Homo sapiens: one gene and its partner. The protein of the gene in region 2 interacts with the protein of the main gene of each other region in a pairwise test. Each region holds a gene or a part of one and is shown on either strand. Other genes may lie near its edges.

Region 1 (3,500 bases), about 20 Mb from region 2:
GGTAAGAAGGTGTGTGCTGGGGGTGAAGGTCACGCCTGCCCTCCCATCAGCCCCTCTGCAGGGAGGGGAAAGCCAAGGGTAGAACAACAACTCCACGAATCTCTTACATACACAGTGCTTCACAAGCTGGAGTCATTTTGTTTTTACAGAAAAGACAGATTTAATGAGGCAAATTCAATGTTTCTCAATGTGGGTGCTCTGGGATTTTGGGTGGGACATTTAGCATCCATGGTCCCTGTAACAGTGTTGGTAATACACCTGTTATTGGGACCACAAAAGCACCTTCACCCACCTCTAAATGCCCCCTGGGGGGGCTGTAATCATCTGATTGAGAACTGCTGGGCTAGATCACCTGTGATCCCAAGGCTACCAGATGGTGGAGGTGTGACTCAAACCCAGACTTGCTGACTCCCTCTCAAATGCTTTTCCTAATTCCACAATGCCTGGCCATTGCCGGCTTCTGATCTCAGCCCTGCCCTACCTAGACTGTGAAGAAGAGTGAAAAAAAGAACCTCAGGACTTTCAAGCTGGGTGCCCCGCTCAGCCAATAGCCAAGTTCCACTGGACCAATGTCCCACCTGATTGGGGCACCGCGTTCACGCCTGTTTAAACAGGGCAAATAATCAGACCTCACCTGTACCCCAGGAAGGCGGAAGGAGAACAGAGGCTGGGTCTTCAATAGGCTGAAGTTGAGGGGAGCCTCCTAGGTAGGAGGACTGGGGGAAACACGAGGGATTAGGAAGTTGTATCTGATGAGGTCCCCATGCCAGGAAGTTCCCTCCCGGCCAAACAGGGAGCAGCGGTGACATCTGGCTCTGAATTTCAGGTCTCAGGCATCTGGTCCCTGGAGGGTGAGGCCCACTGGAGCAAGTTCAGAGAAGGAGAATGACAGTTGCAGGAGGGGCTGCCTCAGGTGGATGAAAGGAGTTGGGTCTGCACAGGGCACTGGCTGGGAGTGAAGGACAGACAGCTGCTTTTTCCCTGAGTGGTGAGAACACAGAGGAGCTACAGCACAGGGCTCCCTGGAATAGGCAGGAAGGACAGCAGTGAAGACCACCGCCCCCTAAATGTGCCTCGAAAGGAGAAACCTGATGGAGGACCCAGCAGTGCCTTTAAATATGAGAATTATTTTCCAATGCTATTTATAGACTCTTCAAAGGACAAGCAGAAAAATGCTACAAACTGGAACAGAAAGGGCTACATTAGGCCAGGCATGGAGCTCACACCTATAATCCCAGCACTTCGGGAAGCCAAGGCTGGAGCAGTGCTTGAGGCCAGGAGTTCGAGACAAGCCTGGGCAAGACAGTGAGACCCTGTCTCTACCAAAAATTTAAAAAATTAGCTGGGTGTGGTGATGTGCACCTGTGGTCCTAGCTAATCAGGAGGCTGAGGTGGGAGGGTTGCATGGGCCTGGGAGGTCAGAGCTGCAGTGAGCTGTGATCGTGCCACTGGACTACAGCATAGGCAACAGAGTCAGACCCAGTCTCTAAAAAACAAACAAAAAAAGAAATGGCTATGTAATCAGTGAGTACTGTGTGTGCCAGGTGCCTGGCCCAGGATTGTTAGAACCTGGACTAGGAAGCCGCACTGGGGGGCTGGGGGTCATGACGGTCTCTGCTAGGGCGGCTTCACAGCCTCTAGAAGACACGGGAAGTTCTGCCTGGTGCAGGAATGAACAGACACCTCGTGACGTCTATGGTGGTGACTGTGTCTATCATCTCTTTCCTGAATTCACCCAAATGATCAATGAGAAGGTGGTTCAGGAAAACACAAAAGAACCAATCTGATGTTCTCCCAGCACCCAACACCCAGCCCTAGTCCACAGCTCTGATGCTTTTTAGAGGAGCTTAGTCACTTTGGAAGCTTAATTAGACTAAGCTCCAGGAGGGCAGCCCAACCTCCCCATTGGCAGCATCTTGCCCAGAATATAGCAGGCACCGAAAAGAGATTTACTGGATGAATAGAAGAAGGGAGAGGAACGAAATAAACTGTAAAGAATGCAGGGAAAAAGGAGTCTCCAGCAGCTCTCCCAGGGCTCTCCCCTCTCACTGTAATGGTAACTACTGGAAAGAGAGCAGAGAAGGGAGCTGGCTCCAGGAAGGTGTGGGATGTGGGTCCCAGTGTCTGCACTAGGCCAGCCTAGAAGCCAGTCTCATAGCCATTGGGACATTCCAGAATAAAGTGAAAAACTGTGGGTGTAGGCCAGTCTGCGATTGGAGAATGGCGTGTGGGAATCCCACTGGCTTCCTGAGACCCTGGCGTTACCTTGATGGTGGTGGTGCTGCGCTCCTCGTACCTGCACTCGCACAGCAGGCAGTAGGCCTCCACGTCATGGCCAGGCACTGGCATGGGCTCCACCACGTGCAGGCAGTTGCTACAACAGAGAGAGACAGGGCTGTCGAGGCAGGGCCACCACGTCTTAGAGCCTCAAGACCAGAGAAGCAGGTAGCCAGGGGAGCTGAGAGGTAGGGGCTAGGCAAAGGTGAAGGGTGCTCCCAGAGAGGGCCAAGGGCTTATAAAGGATTAGGCTGGCAGAAACCCTTCCTAACCCACAGCCTCACAGCCCATGCCCCTTACACATCAAAACCAGCTCTCCAAACTGCCTACAGGGCTGGCTCCAAAACCATCAACGTTCCCAGGGTTCTACCCCCAGCCGCCTTCCTCATCTCATGCTATGTTCTCCCGGCATGTGCTCATCTGTCCCAAAGGTTCAACTCAGAAGCTGACGGATCTTAGATCAGAATCTCCAGCCAGGGCCGCTCTCCTCTATGAGCTACAGGAGTCACTATGTGCATGTCCCATAGAGACCATGAACTCTACACCCGCCCCTGCACACCCTTTGCCCTCAACTCCCTACTCCTGCAAACTGGCTCCCCATTTGCAATGGCAGAGAGAACACTTCTACCGTCCACTTCACTGTCCGGGTCAAACCCTGGAAATCATCTTTGACACTGCCTTCCTCTCATCTAAGTAAAATCACCAAAGGCCAGTGATTTTACTTCCCTAAAAATTCCTAGAATCCATCTCCTTTATTCTCTCCCACTGCTGTGTCTTAGCTGAGGCCCTCATCCTATCTTCCTCGGACAACCGCACCAGCCTCCGCGCTGCCCTCCTGCCTCGAGTTTGGCCTTTCTAACACATACTACCTTCCCACGGCAGCCAAGTGGTTTTCCAGAATGCAACTCTGGTCATGTCATTCCCCAGCTTAGGCCCGGTCAGTGCCTCCACAGAGCCCCTAGGGCCAATGCTAACTCAATTGCTCTGCCAGGGGTCCCAACCCACCTCACTCCAGTTCCATCTCTTGCTACGCCTCCCTCACCCACTTTCCCAACCTCCAGCCACACGGATCTGCCAGGCTGCTCTCTGAAGGAGCCACACCCACACTCTCACCAGGAGGGCATGGCTTTGCCACCTCATCTTTTAACTCTCAGCTTAGCCACCTGTGCCCAATAGCCAGCTCCCCCCAACCCCCCGCCAATGCACTGCATTGTAATCCAATC
Region 2 (3,500 bases):
CATCTCAACTCTACTGCAAAATCTTACACAATATATCTTTCACTTATCTGCATAGTGTTCTCCAAACTAAGGAGCTAAATAATATTAAACACTCAAATTTATAATAAAGGCTTGCAAATTTGTTCTTACAACGAAACACTGGATTCTGCTTTTTAGAAAGTATTAAATTTGATTTACATTCAATTTTACTAGGCCAAAATTAACAAACAAGGGTTATTTTTTTCACAGTGACTATACCAATACAGTTTTTCAACAGTGAATAGAATGCGTGATGCCCTCGAGGAGCTCATAATCTAGTGTTAATAAAGCTAGATATGCAGACAGAGAAGGTTAAAGAACACAACATAACATATACCATCTTACTCATCAGCTTACTTATGTCATTATTTCAACATCAATCCACAGCCAAAAACCTGGAAATAAAACTGTTATCATGCTGGGTGCGGTGGCTCATGCCTGTAATCCAAGCACTTTGGGAGGCCGAGGCGGGCAGATCACCTGAGGTCAGGAGTTCAAGACCAGCCTGGTAAACACAGTGAAACCCTGTCTCTACTAAAAATACAAAAACTATCCGGGCGTGATGGCGGGCTACTCGGGAGGCAGAGGCAGGGAGAAGTGCTTGAACCCGGGAGGCGGAGGTTGCAGTGAGCCAAGACGCGCCACTGCACTCCAGCCTGGGTGACAGAATGAGACTCTGTCTCAAAAACAAACAAACAAACAAAAAAACCATCCTCGGCTGGGCGCAGTGGCTCATGCCTGTAATCCCAGCACTTTGGGAGGCCGAGGTGGGAGGATCACGAGGTCAGGAGATCGAGACCATCCTGGCTAACACAGTGAAACCCCGTATCTACTGAAAATACAAAAAAAAAAAAATTAGCTGGGCGTGGTGGCGGGCACCTGTAGTCCCAGCTACTCAGGAGGCTGAGGCAGGAGAATGGCGTGAACCCGGGAGGCGGAGCTTGCAGTGAGCCGAGATCGCGCCACTGCACTCCAGCCTGGGCAACAGAGTGAGACTCCGTCTCAAAAAAACAAACAAACAAACAAACAAAAAACTATCCTCATCAGACACACAAAACCTCCACAGCAATAAAATAGCAAAGAGCCATGGTATTTGTACCTTTTATCCACAGGAGTGGCTCACTTATACTCTGTCTCCACATGCTCAGTTACATGGTTTTCTTCAGGGTTTGTCTGATTAGAAGGTGCAAATTCTAAAAGGAGGCTAATTCTAAAAACTTGCCAACAAGGGAGGAAAAAAACTACAGAACTAAACAATCAAAATGGGTTCACTCAACAAACACTGAGTACATCCTTACTGAATACAAAGATGAAGACTACAAGATTTAAATATGATATTTTCACCCGGAGATTAGTAAAGATTTTTTTAATGAAAATCCCAGTACTGGAATCAAGGGAATTGGGTCCCTCAAACACTTTGAGGGGCAAGGGGGAATATTCTGGAGGACAACGTGGTAGTATGCATCAAACGCTTTGCTGTGCCTGCCCTCTGAATTAGCAATTATGCTCCAGGAATACAGGCTATGAAAATCAGAAGCAGCAATACAGACCTATGACAAGTAGGCTTATCACCACATTAATTGTAGTGTGATCATAAATATAATGTATCTTCCAGGATGAACATTTATATGACAAAATACAATGCAGTCATTAAAAGCTGCCACCCAGAAGTCTGAAGGATATAAAGAAATACAGATGAAAACGTCATAAAACAGGCCAGGCGCGGTGGCTCATGCCTATAATCCCAACACTTTGGGAAGCCAAGGTGTGTGGATCACCTGAGGTCAAAGTTCAAGACCAGCCTGGCTAACAGGGTGAAATGCCATCTCTACTAAAAATACAAAATTAGCCAGGCATAGTGGCGCACATTGGTAGTCCCAGCTACTTGGGAGGGTGTGGCAGGAGAATCGCTTGAACCCAAGAGGTAGAGGTTGCAGTGAGCTGAGATCACGCCATCGCCATTGCACTCCAGCCTGGGCGACAGAGTAAGACTCTGTCCCAAAAAAAAAAAAAAAAAAAAAAAAAAGAAAAGAAAAAGTGATAAAACCATATATAACGTATAATCCCAATTTTTAAAATGACCATATTATATATATAATATATATTTGTAATAAATATATAAATCCTGGCCCTTCTACGTACAAGCTTATAAAGTTGAAGTTTTTTACTAAGTTTCATTTTCCTTTTTGTGAAATGATGACAATAATAATACCTACTTCATAAGGATAAAAGAGCAATCCCTGTTGTGGGATTCTGTTCCGAACAGGACATTGACAATGTCAAAACCTCCCAAAAGGAGCTTCAAACTTCCAAGCACTAACCACTGCATGTATAAGTTACAACAGCTTTCTAACTGGTCTCCTTTTTCATCTTTCCTCACACTGATGCATCCAACACTACCACCAAATCAATATTCCTAAAATCCTAATTTCATGTCATTTCCTTGCTTTAAAAATCTGTAATGGCCTCAAGATGAGATTCTCCTTAGGCCAACATAACTTGACCCTATTTTACCTGCACTGGGAAGTATTGACAGTAGTGTGAAATCAGGTTGTTCTAATTTGAAGCCTGAGTACACCACTTATTAGCTGTGTGACCCTAGGCAAGTAAGTTAACCCCTCTAACACTTCCTCAGCTTCTCATCTCTAAAATGTGGCTAGTATTCATCATATGGGTGTTTTTACAGAGTGAAAATTCATATAAAGTGCTTACTTAGCACTTTACATGTATGCCTGGCACTGGAGATGCATCCTTTAAATGTGAGCTGTTACTACTTCCCTAAACTGTCTACTCCACCTGGGCTGCTCTTCCAGATCATTTCTAACACACATTGCCCAACTTAGGCCTTTGGCTGGTGGTGTTCTCACCCATGAGGCACCATTCCATCACAATCACCACCATCAACAAAGAGTATGTGTTCAACATTTACACTATATATTCAAGGTGTAGGCTGGAAATACAGAGGAAAAAAAAAAAAAAAACAGTCCCAAACCTCAGAGCTCATAGTCTAATAATGAAAGAGAGACAGAGGAAGAGGTCCAATAATTAGGGGTGACAAAGGAAGCACTTCCTGGAGGCAAGGGAGATGCTTACACTGACTCCAGAAAGCTGCGTGGGTGAATCAGGCAGTGTGGGTGCATGTAGAGTAAGAGCATCCAGTACAGCAATCACAGTCACTGTATTGAGTCTGGCACTGCTGGAGTACTAAGGCTAAGGGAGAGCAGAGGCTAGATCAGTGAGGTCAGGAAGTGTTGGCACTTTATTCTGCAGGCCAGCAGCAGCCACTGAATAATATTAAGTAGGGTACACCTGTCTAGGACTCTAGAAAAGCTTACACTGTGCTGTCCAACACGGAAGCCACATACAACTACTGACTGGAAATGTGGCTAGTGTGACAGAAATTAAATTTTAATTAATGTAAACTTGGTAACTGATAGCAATTCAGTTATCAAAAACCTTTTATGTATGTTTGGAACAATTAA

The links. The genes of interacting proteins can lie anywhere in the genome.
Region 1: the proteins of STX6 (region 2) and TMEM9 interact in binary tests that used the Homo sapiens proteins (3 or more experiments, as listed by UniProt).

What each region holds. Positions count from the first base shown.
Region 1 is NC_000001.11:201,144,475-201,147,974, forward strand, and holds part of TMEM9 (proton-transporting V-type ATPase complex assembly regulator TMEM9 isoform a precursor), read right to left. Parts: intron 2,375-3,500; coding exon 2,266-2,374; intron 862-2,265; exon of another isoform or gene 635-861; intron 1-634. UniProt on the Homo sapiens protein: Transmembrane protein that binds to and facilitates the assembly of lysosomal proton-transporting V-type ATPase (v-ATPase), resulting in enhanced lysosomal acidification and trafficking.
Region 2 is NC_000001.11:181,016,371-181,019,870, forward strand, and holds part of STX6 (syntaxin-6), read right to left. Parts: intron 1-3,500. UniProt on the Homo sapiens protein: SNARE promoting movement of transport vesicles to target membranes. Targets endosomes to the trans-Golgi network, and may therefore function in retrograde trafficking.